3 linked regions of the Homo sapiens genome follow. The protein of the gene in region 1 purifies or fractionates together with the protein of each later gene. This does not show direct contact. Each region holds a gene or a part of one and is shown in the gene's direction. Other genes may lie near its edges.

Region 1 (8,552 bases):
CTTAAAAGCAGAGGGGCCACATATTTTATGTTTTCCTAGAGGGCACAGCCAATTAATACTCACGGGCAGAAGTGAAATGAATGCCAGCGGATTCCAGCAACTAGGTTTCTGTTCCCTTCATCTGTAAAGTGGATGTGATCGTTCTCTTCAGGGATTTTAGTGGAAATTAGGGTGAGATAGTTAATATGAAGTACCTAACATGGTGCCTGGCATGTTATTAGTGATCAAAAAGTTCCTTTCTTCTTTGCAATGTGGAATCCACTGTCACTGAGGTTGGGAACTCATCAGACACAGACATCCATCTCCTGATTACAGAGGAAGCTTCTAACTGCTACATTCTAAGCACCCAGAGTAAGCTTGGACTTCAAACCCATGAGGACACCCCCAATTCTAAGACTGTCTATACTATATAAAGATGACTCATGGTTTTCAAAGTCATTTTTATTTATATGGAATAACAGGCCAAATTAAAAAAAAAAAAAAGCATGGGTGGGCGTAAGGGAACACGTAAGTTTGGAAAACCAGATTAAGTGAAATTAAATAGCCAGTGTCCCCTTCATAAGCTCTGATCAAGGATTTCCTTTACGTTAACTCTCCTACTGTGGGTATTTCACTTCTCAGCGGGTTGTAGGCCCTGGACCTGGGTGCAGCATTTTAAATTATCACCTCTGAATGAAATGTTGCCTGGCTGGGGAAGAGGTGGCTCACCCTGGCAGGCCAGTGTGTTGACCAGGATCCCTGAGAGCTGACAGCATTCAGAAATGGGTACCCCAAGTATTTGCAGGTGATGTTGGTCTAGGATACTAATATAGTGGGACAGCAACGACACAAACACATGTGTGGTATAAAATGTGCCAATCATATCTGCTCCCCCATTCAATGTGCTAACATGTGTATGAGCCCTTGGCACTGTCACATAATAGAAGCTGCATGTTTTTAACCCTCATGCTCACCAGCCTGGGCCAATGATGCCCCCAACGGGAAGCAGCCTCAGTGATAGGGTTTGGCTGTGTCCCCACCCAAATCTCATCTTGAATTGTAGCTCCCATAATTCCCATGTGTTGTGGGAGGAATCATGGGGGTGGGTCTTTCCCATGCTGTTCTCGTGATAGTGAATAAGTCTCACGAGATCTGATGGTTTTATAAATGGGAGTTCCCCTGCACACTCTCTCTTTCCTGCTGTCATGTAAGACGTGTCTTTCCTTCTCCTTGCTTTTCACCATGATTGTGAGGCCTCCCCAGCCATGTGGAACTGTGAGTCAATTAAACCTCTTTCCTTTATAAATTACCCAGTCTAAGGTATGTCTTTACTAGCAGCATGGGAACAGACTGATACACTCAATATGCCCCTTTCTCCAACAAGCTATCCCAAACCATCTGTAGGAAGGGCCTTGGGTGGTTTTTTAGTTGTTTCTGTTTGTTTTTAATTTCCAACTTACTGTGGAATGATACTTTGTAAAATTCAATAAAAAATAAATTACTAGAGCAATACAATTAACAAAGACATACCAAATACAATCAGGACAAAAATACAAGCTCCCTTAAAGAGGCCACAGAAATATTCTGAAGACCATCCCACTTCTCTTACAGATGGGGAACTAAGGGACCTGCCCCCATTGCATAGCTGGTCAGAGGCAGCTCCTCTGGCTGAAGCAAGCTGGGTGCTTTGGCCTAAGCCCTAGCCCTGACCCCAGCCCCAGATCCAGCCCCAGCCCCTGCCCCGGCTCCAGCCCCAGCCCCAGCCCCAGCCCCAGCTCCAGGCCTGGCCAAGTTCTCCTTCTCATCCTTCTCGGAAGACGAGGGGGAGGTGAATGAGGCATTGGCCTCAGGTGCAAAATTTAAGGGGGTGCCAAAAACTCAGTCACCAAGATAAAGAATATGTAATGCAATATATTTCTAAACATTAGAATTTTACACAAAGACAGGATCAGTAACAGTGCTGAGCCGAGCAATATTGGCACCGGAGGCAAAAGGCAGAATCAGTGACATTGTCAGAGCCTTACTTAAAGTTTTGGCCTTTTGTTCAGCACAGATTTTACTGCATTAATGTTGAGAAGGAGGTCATAGGTAGGGCATAGAGAAAGAGTGAATGTCAGGGGTCATTATATGAACAACGTCGCGTGGGCCCGCGACATTTAGCTCCTGGCTAAAATAACTGTGTGCACACCAACGGGAGGGGAAGACGGGGGTTTTCAGAAAACACCTCAAATCAAAACAATTACTGTGTTCCTTCCACTCTGAGACTCCACCAGTCAGAAGATATGTGATCAATTTGTTAATGTATCTCTAGAAGGAAAAAAATGGCAGGTAAACTTCTTCTGACATCATCTATAAGCAACCCCCATAATTCAGAAATATTCATATATAGAACCCTGAAGGGAAAAATCCCAAATTGTTTTTTCCTCTGCTCTCACGCTACGACAATCATCAACGCGGAAGGTTCGTGTCACCATATGTGTGTGTTGGGGGTTCTCCCCACTGCCAAGCAAGCAATCAGTTCCGCAGGAGACACCAGGGTGTCTTCCAACTCATTTCTGACACTGTCTACCTGGAGATAGTGGCAGATCCCACAGGTTGAGGGCTCAATCCCCAAGGCACCCCACCCCCATCCCACTTCGCACAGCAGTTGCAAGTCCAGGCATCCGGAGCTTCTGACCGACAGGCTGGGCTCTCAATTGGGGTTCCCACAACCCCCTCTCAGGTTCATTAATTTGCTAGAGTGGAACACAGAACTCAGGGAAATGTACATTTACTGGTTTATTATAACGCATATTACCAAGAACACAGATGATGGGATGTACAGGGAGAACAGGCACGGAGTTTCCATGCCCTTCCCAGGCACCCCGTCTTCCAGCAGCCTCCACATGTCCAGGGATCCAGAAGCCCCCAAACCCAGACCTCTTGGGCTTCTTAAGGAGACTTCATTGGACAGACACGATTGACGACCATGCAGAAATGTGATCGAACAAAAAGGTATGATCCAATAGTGACTGAGTAAGTGTGGACACCCAAACAAGTCCTGCCTATTCCGACCGTTATTGGCCTTTCCGTGCAGGATTTCTTCCTCTCGGGAATGGGGCAGGACCCCTTCTGAATAGAGGGTCTTAAGTCCCACAATCAGAAAGATGAGGGAGGATTAGAGTCCTGCCTTGGGCTGGTGAGGTGGTGAAGGAGGGCAGGGGAAGTTCAGAGGAGATTGTTTCCTGGGGTGTCTGAGGCCTAAAGCGCCCCAACATTATAACAAGAGACTGTGATGAGGGCGACGAGAGTGCTAAGCCAGGAACCCTGGACAAAACCCAGAATTTATACCTCGTCATATCACAAGGACCAAAAAAATTAAAAATTAAAAAAAGGCTCTTAAAATGCAGGCAATACAGTAAAATGTTTTAATGTAGGAAGCACTAAAGTCTTTGTTCCAACAAAATTAACTCAGAGAACAAATTATTTTACATATGTATACAGATCAATCAACAAAAGTACACATTATAACAATTGCTAAACACTGTCCATAAAGAAAACATTTCAAATGAGAAGCGCCATCGCGGTTTTCTCCTTCTGGGTCACCCAGTGGAATGAGGGCCCTCGCCAGGGGCTCTTCCCAGACGTCTCTTCACACCAACCGGCTTCCTTCTGATGGCCCCATTTTCCTTTAAAACCAGTTCTCATCAAATAGGGTGTTTTATGCACCCTGGCAAATGATCATTTTGACAAGGATTAAAACTGTAAGCTAAACAGATGACACAAATGACAATTGGGAATAATTTTTAGTGGGGACAGAGGCTAAATACTACCCCCTCCCCTTTTCTACTTCTAACCAATATCTTGAGCATTCAGTGGGACAATACAGTCTTGCTGGGTCTCTTGAAATCCTCTAGCAAGAAGCCAGCCAGGAGAAGACCCAGAAGTCCCACACCTGTGGGGCCAGGATGGCTGCTTGGTTGCTAAACCCAGACAGGGTCCTTCCAGTGCATCTGCCCCTGTCAGGCTCTGTCTCGAGACTGGGGATCTTCCAGGCTGGCTTCATTCTGGACCAGAGAGCAGAGGAGAAGGAGAAAGAATATAAACCCACCCCTATGAGCCAGGGAACCACCCAAGCTGTAAGGATTTTGTGCAAGCTGCTGGAACTCGGGTTGGAAAAGCCACCCGGCAAGCAGCTGAAAGGAAGGATGCTTCTCCCTGCGTGGGCGCACGCCTGCTTCCTAAGAGATGATCCTTTGGGTGGGCTGATCATGCCTCCTCCTCTGGGGAGGGAGTCCTGCGAAAGCACGCACCTCAAAAGGAGTAAAGGCCCTATGGTGTCCCCAAAGCGACCCCTGTCGCGTTCTTTCTGCGGGTGGCCTCCCTGCATTACTGATTACTCGGAGCGGCTGAGCTGACGTCAGCATTCTGGGAGCGCCAATGACCTTTGGGGTCATCACATCCTCAGAAACTAGAGCAGGAGGGGAAGCGACCCCCAAGCCAGCACTCCCCCTACTTTCCACCAGGGAGCCGAGGTCGCGCCATCCTGGGGCGCATCTGGGGGTGGGGGACACACCAGCCCCCTCCCCCAACCCCTCTAGGGCCCTCGGCAGCAGGCGGTACTGGATGCCCACCCGGGGCTCTAAAGGACCTGGGCCGCACCGGGAACCCTCGCCCGGGTCTTCGAGCCCTCCCCTTCTCCCAATTCTTTCCGCAGTCTCAGGAGCCCCACGTTTCCCGCGGCGTGGGGACACGCACTTACCGCGGATCCACTGCGCAAACCTTGATGAACCTGAAAAAAGCAGGGTGGGGTGGGGTGGGGTGAGGGTGGGGGTGGCTAGACCCTGCTCGCACCCAGCGCCACGCACCGCTCTCTGGGCGGGTTCGAGTGCGCGCGCCGGGCGGGGCGGGACCCGGGGGCTGCGGTGTTTCGAGAAGCACGTGCTACTTCGCGCGCAGCGCCCCCGGAGACTGTGGGCTTCCTCGCTGCCTGGTCTACGGCAGGGCGGGCGCGGGGGCGTGTTTCAAAGGGTAGGGCACACAGTGAGACGCCGGGAGGCGGGATGGATCCGAAACCAGCTCGCAGCGAGTCCCAAGCGGCTGCGGCCGCCGCAGGGGTCTGGGCGCGGCGACGAGGGCGGCGTGGGGCGACGGGGAGCGGGACGGTGGCGCTGCACGCCGCGCACTTCCTGTTCAACACGCGCCGCCTCCCACCACCCGCGCTCCCCGAGCTTGCGTCGGTGCCAGGCCCGGCCCCTCACTGTCCCCTTGCGGTCCCCTGGGGCCGCGGCGCGGCGGGGGGCGAGGAGCGGGCGCCCTGCCCTTCTTGGCCCGCTGGACTCCGGGCGCCCCCTCCGGCGCGCAGGGCCGCGAGCGCCGCCGCCAGAACTTCTGCCAGCGGCCGCCCGTAGCCTAATTGCGCAGAGGGCTCGCCTTGCACCTCCTCTTCCCCCGCCGCCCTCCCTCTCGCCCAGAAAGGAGGACGGACCCAGCTGCAGGCTCCGAGCTGGTTTATTCTGCGGCCGAGGATTACATTTATGCACGAACGGGCTTACTGGTTCCAGATTCCCCACTTGGGCACAGGCATAGGAGGCTTGTTTTCCAAATTGCTGGTTTTAATTGCACCTGCCTTTCAGATTACCTCTGGGAATCTGTGGGAGGAGCCGAGAGGGTGGAAAATGTTTCTTAGCTTTGCAAAAGGAAGAAAACTTTGTCACCCAGCGGGAGACCTCAGCCACGAGTAACCCGGGGAGACACCAGAACCGGGACGGGCTTTGACTGATTTGCCTACGAGGGTTCCGTAGGAAAGGACGCTTGAATTCGGCGCTTCGGCGGCGGCGGCGGCCGCGCGAGTTCCCTGCTCACCCTCCCTCTCCGCGGAAGTCCCCACGAGGTGGCTTCAGGGTGTAACAGAGCGCGCGGCTCCAGTCCGAAGGCAGCGGCCGGGGGAGGGAAGGAGGGGACCGAACCCCCGAGGAGTTTCGCAGAATCAACTTCTGGTTAGAGTTATGGGAAGCGCGGTTATGGACACCAAGAAGAAAAAAGATGTTTCCAGCCCCGGCGGGAGCGGCGGCAAGAAAAATGCCAGCCAGAAGAGGCGTTCGCTGCGCGTGCACATTCCGGTGAGTCCCAGCACTCGGTCCCCTGCTCCCCAGCCCTCCTGTCGCTCCCGTCCCCGGCGCCGAAGCGGTTAACGCTGGACGCCCCGCGCGCGCCGTGCGTGCCCCTCCTGTCACTTCGGGCGGCTTGGGGAAAGGGTAGAGGGACAGGGCCCGAGCTGGGCTGGCGGAGCCGGGGCTCAATCTCTCTCTCTGCCCGCGTGCAGCCAGGGCTGGGGCTCCGCCTGGGGCGGGGGCTGGGCGGCTGCAGACTAGAGGGGGCGCCGGGCGCGGCGGGTGGGCGGCTGGGCGTAGCCCGGTATCCAGCCGGGTGCGGGTGCGGGGGGCGGTGCGTTGTGTTGTTTTGCTGAAAAGGGACGGTGTGGACTGCGCTCCGGGGAGGTGGAGCCCGCGCTCGGCTGCTGGAGACGGAGAGAGGGGAGGGGAGGGAGGAGAGGGGAGGGGCGGTGGGTGGGGAAAGCAGCGGGGCGGGGGTTGGGGGGAGCTGTGTAGCTGCGTCTTCCAATGCACCCCCTCCGCTCCAGTTTCTCTCCGGGCGTTTCTGGGCCTGGAGCGGGGGTCTCCTCTGCCGCCGTTCCCTTCCCCCGCCCCGGGAGTGTACTTTGGGTCTCTGTGGTATTTGGGGGCTCGGAGCTCCCTAATCCGTGCAGGCTGCATTGAACTTCAGCCCCGTCCGCGCCAGCCGCCCGGGAGGACATTGGCGACTCGGATCTGCCTGCGGCTTCACTTTGTCCAGCCAGAGGGGCGGCGGGCCGCGTAGTGGTTCTCTTTTCGGAAGGCGCCCCGGTAGCCCGCGGCCACTGTTCCTCGCCTCCACGTAGCGGGGTAGGGCGGTGGGAGGTGTGGCCCACTGGGTCACACCCTCCGCCTCAGCCAACCAAGTAAATGTTTGTGTACACACACACACACACACACACACACACACACACACACACACACACACACACCAGAGTGCTCCGTAGAGAAAGTTATTTTGCTCTCCCGGGGCAGGGTGGGAGTGCGCAGTGAATGGGCTGTCCGGACCCCTCATTAAAGCTAATCCTTCCCGACAGGGTCAGGCGCAGCTGGCATGGCCGAGGCAGGCCACTCACTTCCCACTGTGAATCCCAGGGCGCACTGCCCCGTGTTTGCTGAGCCACCCTTCTTTTAGACGCCCCGCTAAGGTCCTCCTGTGTAAACTCCGGCCCACACGTGCCTAACGCTTGGGTGAAGAGGGTGGAGTCCAGGGGCGGGTCTCCAGACACCTGATGCCAAGTAGCCCCACAGGGGCCCTGGGCCAGCCCTCCCTGGCTGGAAAGCTCTGGGGCTGGAAACTTGGACCCCTGGCTGCTGTGTGGCCCCCACGGTGGTGACTCGATTATGCAGGAATAAGTGTTCTATTTGAAAATGAAACATTCTTGTTTACATCTCTCATGTAAGACATTTAAAACCATGTTCGTGAGTTAAAAGTTAGATGTTGCTGCCACAAACCTCTTAAACAGTGATCACTTGAGCTAACCGTGTAACTACTGTTTCTCCCATTTGTCAAATGCAGGAAATAATACCCATTTTTCCTGCTTTATACGGATATTGAAATAAAGTAATTCATGGGAAAACTCTTTTTTATTGTTTTTTTTGTTTTGAGTCAGGGTGTCACTCTGCTCCCCAGGTGGGAATGCAGTGGTGCAATCATGGCTCACTGCAGCCTCAACCTCCCCAGGCTCAAGTGATCCTCCCACCTCAGCCTCCTGAGTAACTGGGACTACAGGCATGTGCCACCACACCCATCTAATTTATTTATTTTTTTTGTAGACATGAGGTTTTACCATGTTGCCCAAAGCTGGTCCACATGAGCTGGGCTCGAGTGACCCGCCCACCTTGACCTCTCAAAGTGCTGGGATTACAGGCGTGAGCCATCACACCCATCCCGGGAAAACTCTTGACAAGTGTAAAGTGTCCTATAAATGTATGGCTTATACATATACATATACATATACATATACATCATATACATATACATATACATCATATACATATACATCATATACATATACATCATATACATATACATATACATCATATACATATACATATACATCATATACATATACATATACATCATATACATATACATATACATCATATACATATACATCATATACATATACATATACATCATATACATATACATATACATCATATACATATACATCATATACATATACATATACATCATATACATATACATATATATCATATACATATACATATACATCATATACATATACATATACATCATATACATATACATCATATACATATACATATACATCATATACATATACATATACATATACATCATATACATATACATCATATACATATACATATATACATATACATCATATACATATACATATACATCATATACATATACATCATATACATATACATATACATCATATACATATACATATACATACATATACATCATAT
Region 2 (7,603 bases), on another chromosome or scaffold:
TATTCTGCTTAAGAATTCTTTATGAAATATCCATATTTGAAGTTTTTGATGAACTGAATCTTAGGTTAAAATGATTCTTTAATCCAATTGTTATTTCCTGTTACAGATTGTATGCAGGCCCAGAGGTAGATATATGGAGCAGTGGGGTTATTCTCTATGCTTTATTATGTGGAACCCTTCCATTTGATGATGACCATGTGCCAACTCTTTTTAAGAAGATATGTGATGGGATCTTCTATACCCCTCAATATTTAAATCCTTCTGTGATTAGCCTTTTGAAACATATGCTGCAGGTGGATCCCATGAAGAGGGCCACAATCAAAGATATCAGGTAATAAAGCAGTTTGGAAGTTATCAGATCTGATAGTATCCATGATAAAAGTTATGTGAAAAAAAAAAAGTTGCAGAACAGAATATACAGTGTAATCCTGTTTTTATGTGAAAAAAATAGAGTGTATAGACACATTTATTTTATTTTGTTATTAGAAATACATAGTAAACTGGTTACCTTAGGGAAGTAAGATTCGTAAGAGGGAGGGCTTTCACTTTTTACTTACACATCTTTGTTTTGAAATTTTTACAGTGAACATCATATTACTTTTTAAATTAACAAAAAAGCTAATGAAAGATTGGTGCTGTGGCTCACACCTGTAATTCCAGCACTTTGGGAAGCTGAGGAAAGAGGATCATGTGAGCTCAGGAGTTTGAGACCAGCCTGGGTAACATAGCGAGGCCCCATATATATGTATATCTTTTATTTTTATTTATTTATTTTTTTTGAGACAAGGTTTTGCTCTGTCACCCAGCCTGGAGTGCAGTGGTGTGATCATAGCTCACTGTAGCCAGTAACTCCTGGGTCAAGTGATCCTCCCACTTTAGCCTCCCTAGTAGTTGAGACTACAGGCATCCACCATCATGCCTGGCTGTTTTTTGTTGTTATTGTTTTGCTTTTTGTTTTTGTTTGTAGTGACAGGTCTTGCTATTTTTGCCCAGGCTGGTCTTGAACTCCTGGCCTCAAGTGATCCTTGTGCCTTTCCCTCCCAGTGTTGGGATTACAGGTGTGAGCCAGTATGCCTGGCGTTAGGATTAATACTTTTCAGTAGTAAATTTGTGGGTGGCTATTTTATTTCTTATCTCATGAATTATTGTATTTTTTTTCTTTTTTTAATCCCAAGGAATGAGATTTAATTGACATGTTTTTCCTGGTAGTATACATTGAATTACATGCAAAATTCCTGTTTTGTAGGTAAAAGTCAGTATAACCAGTTTCATCTGGTTCAACCTAATAGTTTAAATTAGACAAAAATGACGATGACAAATTTTCTTCTCAAATTAGAGTGAGCCATTTCTGATGAAGACTTAAACAATTTTATTGCAAGCCTTGTTTCTTTTTTTTCCCCCCTGTGGAAATTTTGGTCCTTTTGGTCTTCTAATGGCTAGACTGCACATTTATCTGAGAAGGAAGAAAGAAATCAGATATGGATCTAGGAATAGTAAATATGAAAGCATTAGTATAATGAAGAAGAAGGAAAGATTATATGTGGAACTTGAAGCTTGATTACTTTCCACTTACTACACGTTTTAGACTAGCTAAAAAAGAGACCATGAATGGCACGGCATGATTTTATCACCAAAGGGAAAGGACAAATCATTCTCTAAAATTTATATTTTAAGATATCTAGGTAAGAAATGTTTTTGTTTGTATTTTACCTATTTTCTTCCAATTAAAATATAATACATGACAATTGAAAAAACTTAGAAAAACACCAACAATAGAGAAGAGAATAAAAAATTATCTTTAATCCCATGACCCAGAAGATAACCATTGTTCTTTTCTTGTTTTTTTTTTCGTCTCTGGATTTTATTTAGTTTTAGCAAAGTGACATAGTTCAGGTCAAACATATTCTTAAATATACGAAGTTAGGGAATTAGAATAGGAAATCATTCAGGGCATGGCCTTTCCAGTCACACAGAACTGGGTCATAATCCTGGTTCTGTCACTTACTGTCTTTGTGACCTTGAGCATGTTCCTTGATTTTTTTTTTAACCTCAATTCCTTCATTTAAAACAAAGAGATATTATCTTCATATAATTGTTTCGATGATGAGGGGAGATAGTGTATATGAAGTGTTTAGCATAAAACTTAGCATATAGTAAGTACTCAGTAGTTGTCTACTATTTTTCTTGTTGTTACATTATCTTCACTTAACATTATATCAAAAGAGTATTATAATGAAGCTACCTAATATGTTCTCTTTCTAAGCTGGAAATAAGCTGTTCTTTTCATTGTTTGTCGCTGTCATTTGTCCCATAACTTTTTTCCCCCCATTGCTGTGTCAATACATTCTCCCTCTTAAAACTGGAGGGAAATTGGAGCATTTCCCTCAACATACACAATGAAGTGCGAGCTAGAAGAGGAAAATTTCAGTGCAAAAAGTGACAATAATACAGTATGAATATAAATATAAATTAAGTCATATTCTAAATTCCCTAAACTGTTACTTTCAGTCTCAGCTCTATTCAAAGTCCTTCTCCTGATCCTGCCATTTTTCTCTCAGGGAACATGAATGGTTTAAACAGGACCTTCCAAAATATCTCTTTCCTGAGGATCCATCATATAGTTCAACCATGATTGATGATGAAGCCTTAAAAGAAGTATGTGAAAAGTTTGAGTGCTCAGAAGAGGAAGTTCTCAGCTGTCTTTACAACAGAAATCACCAGGATCCTTTGGCAGTTGCCTACCATCTCATAATAGATAACAGGAGAATAATGAATGAAGCCAAAGATTTCTATTTGGCGACAAGCCCACCTGATTCTTTTCTTGATGATCATCACCTGACTCGGCCCCATCCTGAAAGAGTACCATTCTTGGTTGCTGAAACACCAAGGGCACGCCATACCCTTGATGAATTAAATCCACAGAAATCCAAACACCAAGGTGTAAGGAAAGCAAAATGGCATTTAGGAATTAGAAGTCAAAGTCGACCAAATGATATTATGGCAGAAGTATGTAGAGCAATCAAACAATTGGATTATGAATGGAAGGTAAGAAAGAAATAACATTTTGATTATTAGCATATTTGGCAAACCCATAGTCTATAAAATGTTTTATAGAAGAATTACTTTTGACTTGGTTTTTGTTATACCATGTGCTAGGTTGTAAACCCATATTATTTGCGTGTACGAAGGAAGAATCCTGTGACAAGCACTTACTCCAAAATGAGTCTACAGTTATACCAAGTGGATAGTAGAACTTATCTACTGGATTTCCGTAGTATTGATGGTATGTACATCACACAAAACAACATAGATTAGACCTTGTTACTAACTTGGTATTTTACGCCTTGATTCTTTTGAGGCTTCTTGACTTGTTCCTAGTAATTCAACTGCAAAGGAATAAAAAATGTGATTTCTTGTGCCTTTGCAATATTAACATTTATGAATCTTATTTTTCTTGTAATCTTATAGCATATTGTCCTTTTAAGATTATCATCTTGTAAAATCCTTAAAGCCAGGTGTAGTCTGATCCTAAGGTGATAGTTTTCTGCTGCATTTGTTTTTTTGGTGTAGTTCATTTTGATAAGAGACAATGTTTTATTTAGAAATAAATATTGACTCTTCTGTAAGCTTTTATTTATTATTAAATAAGTTTTCAGTTAAGAATGAAGTTATGGCAATTCTTCATTGGCCAATTCAATTGCATTAAGCTACGCTGTTGAGTGCAGGTGTGGTGGCTTATGCCTGTAAACAGCCCAGCACTTTGGGAGGCTGAGGTGGGAGGATGGCTTGAGCCCAGGAATTTGAGACCAGCCTTAGCAACATACTGAGACTCTGTCTTTACAAAATATTAAAATATATATATATAGTATCACCTTTGCTTATGGAAGGTTGCATAGAATTATTAGATGAGGTTCACGTTTGAATTTTTTTCTTCTTTATAAACTCAAAGATAGTACACACATAGTAGCAGAAAGACACAGGTTTGAGCCATGATATGTTGGCCAAACCAGTTTGTCTGGTTATCTTTAGGTCCATATAGTACGTATCTGCTAACATATACTAATGCAGTCTGAAATACGGAATGAGTTTTATTTTTCTTGTATTTGGATCAAATTTGCAACCTTAGATTTACTAGTACTGGGGTATACCAATTGAATGCCCATTTTGTTTTTGTACTGTGTTCCCAACCTTAGTTTTTCTTCGATTTTTATTCATTGGAATTGTTGCTCTTTTATGAAATACTAAATGAAATATGAAGGGAAAGTGGAAAGTAAAAAGCACTGAGCTGAGACTTAGGAGAGTTGGGTTCTAGACTTACCTTTCTGTTCATTTGTTACCTTGGGCAAGTCATTTCTCTGGGTTTGTTTTCTTATCAATAAAGTGAGGGGCTGGATGAGATGGTTTCCAGTATACCCTCCAAATTTTAAGTGCATCGATTCTATGATTTTAATATAGAGGGATTACTTTTTATTGCTATAGAATAATATTTATTAATCCCTAGATTGTTGGTTTACTGGGCTCTTAACCTTGGATTGCAACTGATGAGTAGCTATACTGTACCCAACTTTGGTTAGCTATCTTGAGAATACATACTATATGTAAAAAAGATGAATAGTTTAATACAGGCTCATTGACTGTTTTAGAAGGTATTTAGAATAAGCGTGCTCTTGATAGCTGGCCAGCAGCCCCACTTAAAGAAGCAAATTCAATACTGTTACAAAAATTTTTGGGAGAAGGTCATAGACTATAATAAATTGAAATTCTTTTTACCCAGATGAAATTACAGAAGCCAAATCAGGGACTGCTACTCCACAGAGATCGGGATCAGTTAGCAACTATCGATCTTGCCAAAGGAGTGATTCAGATGCTGAGGCTCAAGGAAAATCCTCAGAAGTTTCTCTTACCTCATCTGTGACCTCACTTGACTCTTCTCCTGTTGACCTAACTCCAAGACCTGGAAGTCACACAATAGAATTTTTTGAGATGTGTGCAAATCTAATTAAAATTCTTGCACAATAAACAGAAAACTTTGCTTATTTCTTTTGCAGCAATAAGCATGCATAATAAGTCACAGCCAAATGCTTCCATTTGTAATCAAGTTATACATAATTATAACCGAGGGCTGGCGTTTTGGAATGCAATTTGCACAGGGATTGGAACATGATTTATAGTTAAAAGCCTAATATGCAGAAATGAATTAAGATCATTTTGTTGTTCATTGTGCAGTATGTATATAGCATAATATACACAGTGAATTATAGGTCTCAGGCTTACTTGATTTTTGGCTATTTTATATTTAGTGTACACAGGGCTTTGAAATATTAATTTACATAAAGGCCTTCATATATTATTACGTGTTATATATTACGTGTTATAAATTTATTCAATAAATATTTGCCTAGAATTCCCAAGACCTTTATAGGTGATTTTGTTTTCTGGGCTCCTTAACTTCATAAATAGCTAGTATCTTCCAGCAGTAGTAACAGTCTGGATAACTTCTTCCATATCCCTCCCTCTTTGTTTTTTTGAGACAGTGTCACTTTGTCACCCAGGCTGGAGTGCAATGGTGTGGTCTCGGCTCACTGCAACCTCCACCTCCCGGGTTCAAGTGATTCTCCCGCCTCAGCTTCCTGAGTAGCTGGAACTACAGGCGTGTGCCACCACACCCGGCTAATTTTTCGTATTTTTAGTGTAGACGGGGTTTCACTATGTTGCCCAGGCTGGTCTCGAACTCCTGACCGCGTGATCCACCACCTCAGCTTCCCAAAGTGGTGGGATTACAGGCGTGAGCCACCGCACCCGGCCTCCATATCCCCCTTTTAAAATTCTGTAGTGTATGGTAAGTCATATCAGATATCAGACCTAATTTAAATTTCATTTTAGCTTTACAAGTCCAAAAACACAGAATTTATATATTCAGATACTCTAGCACTAATTTTAGTCTTAAAATATTCCCACGATATTCTGTACACAAAATGTTCTTTTTGTTACAAGAGCTGAGTTGCATATACTGTAGATAAATCATATTATTTTTGCCAATTTCACAAATTCCTCTGGCCCATCATGTCAGTCATTATTGAGTATATGCACACATTGCTACTTATTTGATTATGTATCTTTTAAATTGATTCAGTGCATAGAAAACTATCTCTTACAAACTTTAAGTGCTCTGATATGACTTCCCCCCCAAATTTTATTATGAACATTTTTAAAAACAGAAAAATTGAAAAACTGTTTGGTAAGCACATGTATATCTACCATTTAGATTCAGCAGTTGTTAATGTTTTGTCATTTGTTTTCTCTATACCTATATATGTATAGATACAGCTAGTTATGCATATATATGCATATATGTGTTTGTTTGTGTATGTATATATGCTTTTTTCCCCCTGAACCATTTGGATGTTACAGACATACTTATCACCGTGAAAATACTTCAAGTATCTCCTACAGATAATGACATTCTCCTAAAAATCCGTAATACCATTGTAAAAGTAATAATTCCCCAATATCATCTAATCAAGCCATATTTAAATTTCTGAAGTTAACTCCAAATTTCTTTATAGCTGATTATTTCAAACTAGGATCCAATTAAAGTTTACATATGACACTTGGTTATAACTCTTTAGTTGGATATAACATTATTATTATTTTGATAAAATATGGAACAAATCAATTCTATTAATAAGTGGTCACATTTGTTTTGGGCTTAAATTACTTTTTAAAGATACTGGATTTTCCTAAGATTTCTGATTTACACTGATATTTTTTTTTGTCATTCTTAATTGCATCACACAATAGATGTAAATGAAGATGTAGTCACCTCAGATAAAATTGGTATCGTGTATGATAATATTGTATCATTTATATTTGCCTTATGTTAACTTTAAGAAATTGATTTTTTTGTATTAATCATTTTCCCATTGCAACAGAGCTATATTTTTTCTATTTTAAGAATCATATTTTAGGATTATTTTTGGCAAATACAGTGAGCACTTATGTAACCAGATGATAATGAACTCAAATGTCATGATAGCTTGCATAAATGGTGACTCTAGTAGATTTGACTCAAGCACTTCTAGAATCATGCACTGAATTCAAAAGAAAAATCTTGCTGCTTTTTGTCCAGGGCTTGTTCTATTCAACTTCTAATTTGAAAGCTGTACAAAGTAATAGAAGTTCCATTTAAATATGAGTTCAAAACTGTATTTACTTTTTATGTGGCCCTCTCTTTAGGGGATTCTAATTTTACTTAGGGTCTCTAAGTGCAGCATAATGTTCCTGATGTTAACAGAAGACTGTATTTTTAAAGTTACAAATTTGTATATGGAATTAAGTAATGGCGCTATATACGCTGTTGTGGGGAGGGGGGAAGAAAAGGAGGAACCAATTAAATAGGACCTTTTAAAAATTGTTAATTTTGTAAACTTTGCTTCTCTTATAAGTTATTGTGATTCATTTTAGTTACTGTGTTTTATTTTGAAAATATTTAAATATTGCACTTCTATAAATAGTATGATAAATGCACAGACAATTGCAGTAAATTCTTTTTTAAGCTAGGATATTTGAAATGACAACCTTTGGTTAAGTGTGTCAAGGTTGC
Region 3 (7,851 bases), on another chromosome or scaffold:
GTATTTCATAACAGTAAGGAATTAGTGCTAATTTTGTTAGATATGTTAGTAGTAGTATGGTTGTGTTAAAAAGAAGTGCTTATCTGTTAGACCTATATACTGAAGTATTTGCCAGTGAAATAATCTGCTTATTTACTTTAACATACTCCTGAAAATAAATTTTAAAAGTGCAGAGATAGATGGGTAAATGATGACAATTGTTGATCATCACAGATGCTAAGGTTATTTATGTTACTCTACTTTTGTGTATGTTTGAAGTTTTTCACACAAAATTTTAAAAATGTAATTATTGAGCTTGTACTTCCTATAAAATACCATAAACATCCTTTATTATTCATTGAGTGTCCAAATTTTTTATTTTAAATTGGAGACAGCCATAGAAGCCCTATATCATGAATCTATAGACTTCAAAGGTGCTAACTCATGCCTCTCTAACCTCACTAATGACTGCTGTGCTGAGATGTAAAATTATGCTTTGCCTTTAATATGTGTATACATAAAATAAAACTGCACTCTTCCCTGTATTGTTGTTACTTGATTCTCTAGCTTAGTAACTAACCCTTTCTAAAATTCAATTTAGCAAATATTTTTGGAATGATATACCAGGTTCCACTAGGCCCCAGAAACAGCAAGTGGGGTATGAACATATCATTTGCATATATAATATGTAAATATAAATACATATATGTATCTATCTATATGTATGTATAATGTATATGATAATAGAATTGATAAATTCTATATTAGCTATATTAAACATGTACAATGGAAAACCTAAAAAGAAACATGTGATGAAAAACTTAATGAATCATGCTTAATGTCAGAATTATCTTTCTATTCTATTTAAAAATTTACAAAATATAAAGAGGTAATCAAAGAGTATACAGCCAGAAAATGTAGAAAACAGGTATTATAGAGGTATGTTAGATAATTAATTTATAAAAATATTGTTATTTGTCTGGATTTGGGGATGTTTGTGGCATTTGTCAGCTTTTATAAATTTGTAGAGAGTTGTTTTTCACTTCAAATTCTCACTTTCATACCCAATTTTGCATTTTTTTTTTCCCTTAAAGAGATTCCCCCACACTGAATAAACTTCAGGTGCCACATTCTGAATCTGCTTGGATATCTATATTTTGTCAGGCATTGTCCCGGGAGCTAAGGATACATCAGTGAACAAAATAGAGAAAAAAGGCCTCTCTTCTTTTGTGAAGTTTAGATTCTAATTGGGAGAAACAGACAAAAATATAATAAGCACATAAATTAAATAGTATGTTACATGGCTAGTGCTATGTAAAAAAGTTGAGGAGGGTCAGGGGATGAGAGTGCAGGGCAGAGAGCATGAGTGAGATAAAACTGCAATTTAGGCCTGGTGCGGTGGCTCACGCCCATAATCTCAGTACTTTGAGAGGCTGAGGCAGGACAATCACTTGAGTCCAGGAGTTTGAGACCAGCCTGGGTAACATGGCGAGACCCTGCTTCTAAAAAAAAAAAAAAAAAAAAAAAAAAATTTAAAAAAAATTACAAAAAAAAAAAAAAAAAAGAAACTGCAACTTAAATAGGGTGGCCAGGGTAGGGTTCACCAAGAAGGTGACTGTGAGCAAAGACTTGAAATAATTGGTTACTGATAATACCAATGGTGTCTAGTACAGTATATTAGTTTAGTGGTCTTGCATTAATGTCCTACTCAGGACTTATTTTAGAATATTTGAAGGTAAAACAACCCCAAAGTTTCAGAAGCAGGAGGGTAAAGCAGCAATAGTTGGACCAGCGCTAAGAACTGAACACCTCCCTGGGGCACTGGTCTTAGAGATTGGTACTAAACAATAGCGGCGTGAAACCTTCATTGGAAGATAATAAAATGGGAACATTGCATTTACCAGGTCATCTTTAGGGGTGAGACCTCCAAGAGGCATGACCCTTAAGGAGATCTACTCTGATTAACTGTCGAGTTTTCTACTGCTGAATAGGAAGAGGCAAATATGGAACCTTATCTTGAAGTGTCCAGGACAACAGAGGGCTGAGTACTGCCACCAAGAGTTGTCCTTCTTACCCACTTACCATTCAACCTTTCCTCTAAATAAAAGTCAGAAAAACAACAAAAAGTAGTTTAAATACTTACAAATTTATAGGATATATTATTGGACTGCCCAAGAAATAATAAAAATATGAAAATGGAACCACAACTGTGACAATTTTTAACTTTCTTAGAGCACCATACTTTCTTTTGGCATAGGCAGCTGCGGTATAGTAGGCAGACTGAAGGACAAGTCAGAACTGGATATGAGTTCTGACTCTGCCACTTTTTAGCCCTGGGCAAATCAGAAAGGGAAAAACTAAGTTTTATCATCTATAAAATGGGAATAATAATCTTTCTTTTATGACAATTAAATAATTGTGTTTAAATGAACTTCTTAATCAACAAAGTATCATAGATGTTTCACATAGTAACAAAACTATAAGGTAGTCCACAGTAGCTATGTAAGAATCATAGTTATGAAGTATATAATAATTTAACTTACAGTATTTATCAACAAATAGTTAAGACAGTACGAAATGCTTTGAAATCTCAATTTACAGTTAGTCTTTATGTAGCTTCAAGAAAGCAATCATCTAACTTCAAGTGAAGACTTTTCAACATCTTTTAACGGGATATTAGAGCAGAAGACATATACATCTCATACCTCAAAAGCAGAATAGGTCTTTTCTTACTCACTTGACTACTGAAGGAATGACCCTTAACCAGATGAAAGTTCAGCACAAAAATAACTGGCTATTTTCTCAAAATTGCCAGCGAGGTAGAGTGATTCCTAGATGATACTTGTCAGCAAGAAAGATGATCTGAAGAATGAACAAAAATAGCCTCTGTTTAACAGCTGTGATATCTATAATTTATAAGCTGTGATCATCTCTCATCAGATTGTCTTGATGTTTGGATGAGAATGAATGTTTGAAATTTCTATATTTAGTACTTATCAGAAAACAAAGTTTTGTTGTGTCCTATTCTTTTTGATCAATACATTTCAATTTACATATAAACAGTGTTCAAGAGACTTCATGTTTGAGGAATGTGACCTTGAAACTCTACTGGCATGCAGTGCTATAAATGTTTGACTAATCCTTAATTACTTATCCCCAAACAGAATTTTTTTTTACTGTTTTAAAATTTTTTATTTCATTGGCAAATAAAAATTGTATATATTTAGTATGTATATGTTTTGAAATATATTGATTGTGGAATGGCTATAAGTCAAGCTAATTAACAAACATATTGTATACGAATCTTTTTGTGTGTGTGGTGAGAAGCAAATAAACTTTAATCACTGAAAGACAGAACAACATTAAAGAATGAGACAACATTAAAGGAAGGAAGGAAGGAGGGAAGGAAGGGCGGGAGAGAAGGAAGAGAGGCAGAGATAATCGCTTTATTACCTAATTCTTTGCCAGTCTTTTTTCTTTTTTTTTGTGGGGGAGGGTGGGGAGGTCAGTCTTTGAACACGCTGCCTAGGCATCATGCTTCTAATTTCCTCTTACCACTCTTTTCACTTCTATATCACATTTATTCTTCCTTTAATATGTGACCTTATACTGGCCTCGCCCTTCACAATTCCTCTGTCGCTTACGTATTTTACTTTCTGTGGGCAGAACATTGTTTCCCTTTCCACGTCTTTCCCATTTCCTTCTTGTACAGCTGTATCACATTTCGGTACTATATGTTTATATAAGCGCGTGGTAAAACTACATATTTATATAAGCATGTGCTAAAAAACACTCGAGCAAATACCGTGACTGAGATTTTTTGGAAAACTGTGGGCAAATTAGTTAAAATTGAGAGCTCTGGCGGAGAGGGTCTCTTCCATCTATAGGACAAAATAATTGGGAATTACAGAATAAGTAGAGGAGGACAATTCAAGAGAGCACAGAGCTGCGTGCATTCTCCCTGTGCCGCGACCTGTATCCAAAAGCCTCAGACGAGACTTGAGGAGCTTCCTAGAGGCTCTCCTGCCACTGCCCCTTTGGCCAGGGCCCTTCCCGCAGTCTCCCCTCCCGATTCTTCCCTTTTACAGCCCCTCGCTCCCGACATGCGAGGCCCGTCTCTTCTTCCAGTTTGACTTCCAAGTCTTTCCATTCCCTAGGATCGGGCCCCAGTCTCACCCCCTATTTTCACCCCCTTCGGTTTTCCTCAGAAAGGGCCTCCTGCCTCCCTCGGCACCCTCGCCTACCCCCCTCGCAGCACCTGTCGCCTCCGCCCCTCACTCGGACCCCGCGCATCTGGCGCAGCCCCTCCCGCACTCCCGCCCAGCGCCCCGCGTCCCCGGCCCCCGCTGTCGCTGCTTCGGGTTCCGCCGCAGGAGCCTCTCACTCCCGGGAGCGGGCGCCTCGCGCTCCCTCCCTCGGCCCCGCCCCGCCCGCCGCTCGCCCGTTGCTTCCCACCTGGGCCCGAAGCGCCCAGCGCCCTCTCCCGGGACCCCGCGCCCGCCCCGCGCCCCTCGCGGCTCGGGGTCCGCCCCCTCGCCCGCAGGGCCCGCTGCACTGTGGGTAGGCGGCGGCGGCGGCGGCTACGCGGAGCGGCAGGCGGTGGAGCGAGGCCGCGCGCGCCGAAGATGGCTGAGAAGCAGAAGCACGACGGGCGGGTGAAGATCGGACACTACGTGCTGGGCGACACGCTGGGCGTCGGCACCTTCGGCAAAGTGAAGAGTTGAGTACGCGCTCCGGACCGCTGTGCGGGGCTGCCTGACTTGCGGGAGGCCGAGGGGAGAGGCGGGAGCCCCGGGCCTCCGGCGGGCGCGGGGCTCGGCGGCAGGTGGAGCGGTCCCGGGTCGCGCGGAGCTGGGGCCCCGGGAGGGTGGCGCGCACCGCCTCGCCTGGCACCGGCGCCCGGGCCCCACAGGGTCCAGGGAAGAGGGCGGGGGTGTGAGCTGAGGATGGGCGTCCTGGGTTCCAGGTTCCGCGCCCATCTGCCTTTCTGGAGGTCGGAGCAAGGCACTTCTGTGTTCTCTGGACCTCAGTGTCCTCCTCTGCAAAATCGGGAGAACTGGACTCGTTCTGCGAGGCGCCTTCCAGCTCTGAGCCTGTAGGCTTAGGGCGGGGATCATCCACGCTACTGAGGACTGAGGCGCCGTTTCGTGCCGGGTGCCCTGTTAGGTGCTTTACATGGAATCTCATTGAATCCTCACAGTGACTTGGTCAACATGTTGTCCTCACCCTAAAGGTGAGAAAACTAGGACCCCTAGAGATGTAGTAACAAGCCCAAGGTCACACAGAAATGGTCAGTACCAGAGTGAAGTCTAAGATGTCCTCCAATTCTGGTCTTGCTGGGAGGTCCCTGCCATCCCCAGATTCCTTCACGTTCCAGGACTCTCGGTTGTTGGGGGTGACTGTTTGGGGGATGCTCCAGGGGCCAGAGGTTGTGAGTCTTTCTTCCTGGGGTGTTGTTTAACGCTGGAATGCAGCTGGATTGGGTCAGAGGTTAATTAAAACAGAGAGGTCTGAAGGTGTTTGTGTTTGTAAAATGGCTATGGGAAGACTTCTAGGGTAAGGGAGAGAAAAAGTTTCCTTGGTGTTTGGAGGATTTGAGGCTGAGGAGGTCAGGACTGCTAAGGCATATTCTGCTAAGGTCTGTCTTCATGGAGATAGGATCCCCTTTTGAATGTAGAAAAACAGGCTGCTTTTGAAATGTTATACTTTATTCGAGTTAAGTAACTAGTAAGAATAGTTAAGTATGGAACTTTCATTTGTTTTCTTTTTTGTTAATTAGTCACATGTGATTTAATTAACCTGCCTTCTCTCCAGAATAGAGACAGTTGTTTATTAAAAATACTTTGTTGCAAATCCAGAATTATAAGTGAAATATTGACCTTTATTTTTTCTCTTTGCTGAAGAAATGCTGGGTAGGCAGTCTGGAAATTTTATTCTGAGGTCTCTATTTCCTTGTAAAATTCATATTTTAACCCCAAGTCAAGGCTGTTGAATGAGTAGAAGAGACTCATTTTTCATTCCTTTGGTAAGAATCAGCTCCTGTTTTCTTGCACATATTTAATACTCATTCATGTGTTCAAAAAACGCTGAGCACCTGCAACGTGGTAGGCACTGTTCTAGGCAATGAGGATACAGCAAGGAAAAAACAGATCTTTTTGTTTAGCTTTCTAGTAGGAGAAGGCAGACAGTAATCAGAATATATATGTAAAAGGTATGTTTAATTTTATTGAGAAAAACGAATCAGGGAAGGGAAGATAGAGAGTCTTGTGAGGTTGGCAGTTTTCAATAAGGTGGTCAGACAAGGTGGTATTTTTGCAAAGACCTAAAAAGTTTGTAAAATTCTTTGCTGTCCTGTGAGGGTTATAAAGTCCTGGGTTATTTTTGAAAGACCTTATAAGTAGAGTGGATAGTTAGAATGTATTTAAGATGAATACAGGACAATCCAGGGATTGGATTAATGCCTGTAATGTTACTTGTCATTTAGTATTATTATTAAGGACTATTGTGTTACAACATTATACAGTTGCTCAAGCAAACAGCGCCTTTGACATTTGGACATGTACACACAAAGTTATATAACTTAACCCTATGTCCTTTCATATTGTGTTAAAAGTTTTTGCTTGTCTTTTTAAGTTCATATACTGTAATCTGAATGTAGAGTAGAATACTCATCAGATCAATCAGTCCATTGCCAAAGACAACTTAAATCTCTTGTATGTACTTTTGAATTGTTTCCAGGCACTGGCTTCTTAAAATATAAACAGAAAGAACTTTGATTTATGAGAAATTCTTTTCCTGGAGAACCTCTGTCCAATGAACAACCAGTTGAAGGAGTTTTCCTAACACTGTGTTAGATCCTCTCAAAAGTGATACCATGGTTTCCTATCCAAGATTAGGATTAGTACAATTGTTACTCATATAATTCTTCAAGGGACAAGCGAAACAAAAAGTCATGTTTTTTTTTTTTGTTAGAAAACAGCTTTATGGTTGGGCACTGTGGCTCACACCTGTAATCCCAGCACTTTGGGAGGCTGAGGCGGGCGGTTCAATTGAGGTCAGGAGTTTGAGACCAGCCTGGCCAACATGGCGAAACCCCATGTCTACTAAAAATACAAAAATTAGCCAGGCGTGGTGGTAGGCGCCTGTAATCCCAGCTACTGAGGAGTCTGAGGCAGGAGAATCACTTGGACCCGAGAGGCAGAGGTTGCAGTGAGCCAAGATTGCATCACTGCACTCCAGCTTGGGCGGCAGAGCAAGACTCCATCTCAAAAAAAAAAAAAGAAAAGAAAAGAAAACAACTTATTTAGGTATATTTTATATATGAAATTCATCCATTCTAAGTGTACAATTCAGTGATTTTTACTAATTTTGCCAAATGTTGCAACCATCATTATAGATAGGTTTTAGGACATTTGAGGACACCACAGTAAGATTCTTTATACCCATTCACAGTTAATCTCATTTCTACCCTCAGTCCCAGGAAATCACTAATCTGTTTTCTGCCTGTATAAATTTGCTTTTTCTAGGCTCTTCTTCATAAACGTGATCGTTCAATATGTCATCTTTTGTGTCGAGCTTCTTTAACAATGCTTTTGAGATTCATGCATGACATAGCATGTGCCATTAATTTGTTCCTTTTTATAGTTGAATAATATTCCATTGTGTGGATATGCCACATTTTGTCTATACAAAACCAGTTGATGGTCATGGTTTCAAGTTTTGGGCTATTATAAATAATGGCACTACGAATATTCACATGTAAGTCTTTGTGTGGACATATGTTTTCATACACCTTGGGTAAATAACTAGAAGTAGAATTGCTGGGTCATATCGTAGTTTTATGTTTTACTTTTTGAGAAACTGCAACACTTT

Evidence for each region.
Region 2: the proteins of PRKAG2 (region 1) and PRKAA1 purify together in Homo sapiens (affinity purification with mass spectrometry; 10 studies listed by BioGRID and IntAct, with this or other methods). This does not show direct contact.
Region 3: the proteins of PRKAG2 (region 1) and PRKAA2 purify together in Homo sapiens (affinity purification with mass spectrometry; 7 studies listed by BioGRID and IntAct, with this or other methods). This does not show direct contact.

What each region holds. Positions count from the first base shown.
Region 1 is NC_000007.14:151,874,035-151,882,586, reverse strand, and holds the start of PRKAG2 (5'-AMP-activated protein kinase subunit gamma-2), read left to right. Parts: upstream 1-5,471; 5' UTR 5,472-5,966; coding exon 5,967-6,080; intron 6,081-8,552. UniProt on the Homo sapiens protein: AMP/ATP-binding subunit of AMP-activated protein kinase (AMPK), an energy sensor protein kinase that plays a key role in regulating cellular energy metabolism.
Region 2 is NC_000005.10:40,760,194-40,767,796, reverse strand, and holds part of PRKAA1 (5'-AMP-activated protein kinase catalytic subunit alpha-1), read left to right. Parts: intron 1-106; coding exon 107-331; intron 332-2,558; coding exon 2,559-3,045; intron 3,046-3,156; coding exon 3,157-3,283; intron 3,284-3,329; exon of another isoform or gene 3,330-4,774; coding exon 4,775-5,019; 3' UTR 5,020-7,603. UniProt on the Homo sapiens protein: Catalytic subunit of AMP-activated protein kinase (AMPK), an energy sensor protein kinase that plays a key role in regulating cellular energy metabolism.
Region 3 is NC_000001.11:56,640,784-56,648,634, forward strand, and holds the start of PRKAA2 (5'-AMP-activated protein kinase catalytic subunit alpha-2), read left to right. Parts: upstream 1-4,530; 5' UTR 4,531-4,604; coding exon 4,605-4,698; intron 4,699-4,969; exon of another isoform or gene 4,970-5,212; intron 5,213-7,851. UniProt on the Homo sapiens protein: Catalytic subunit of AMP-activated protein kinase (AMPK), an energy sensor protein kinase that plays a key role in regulating cellular energy metabolism.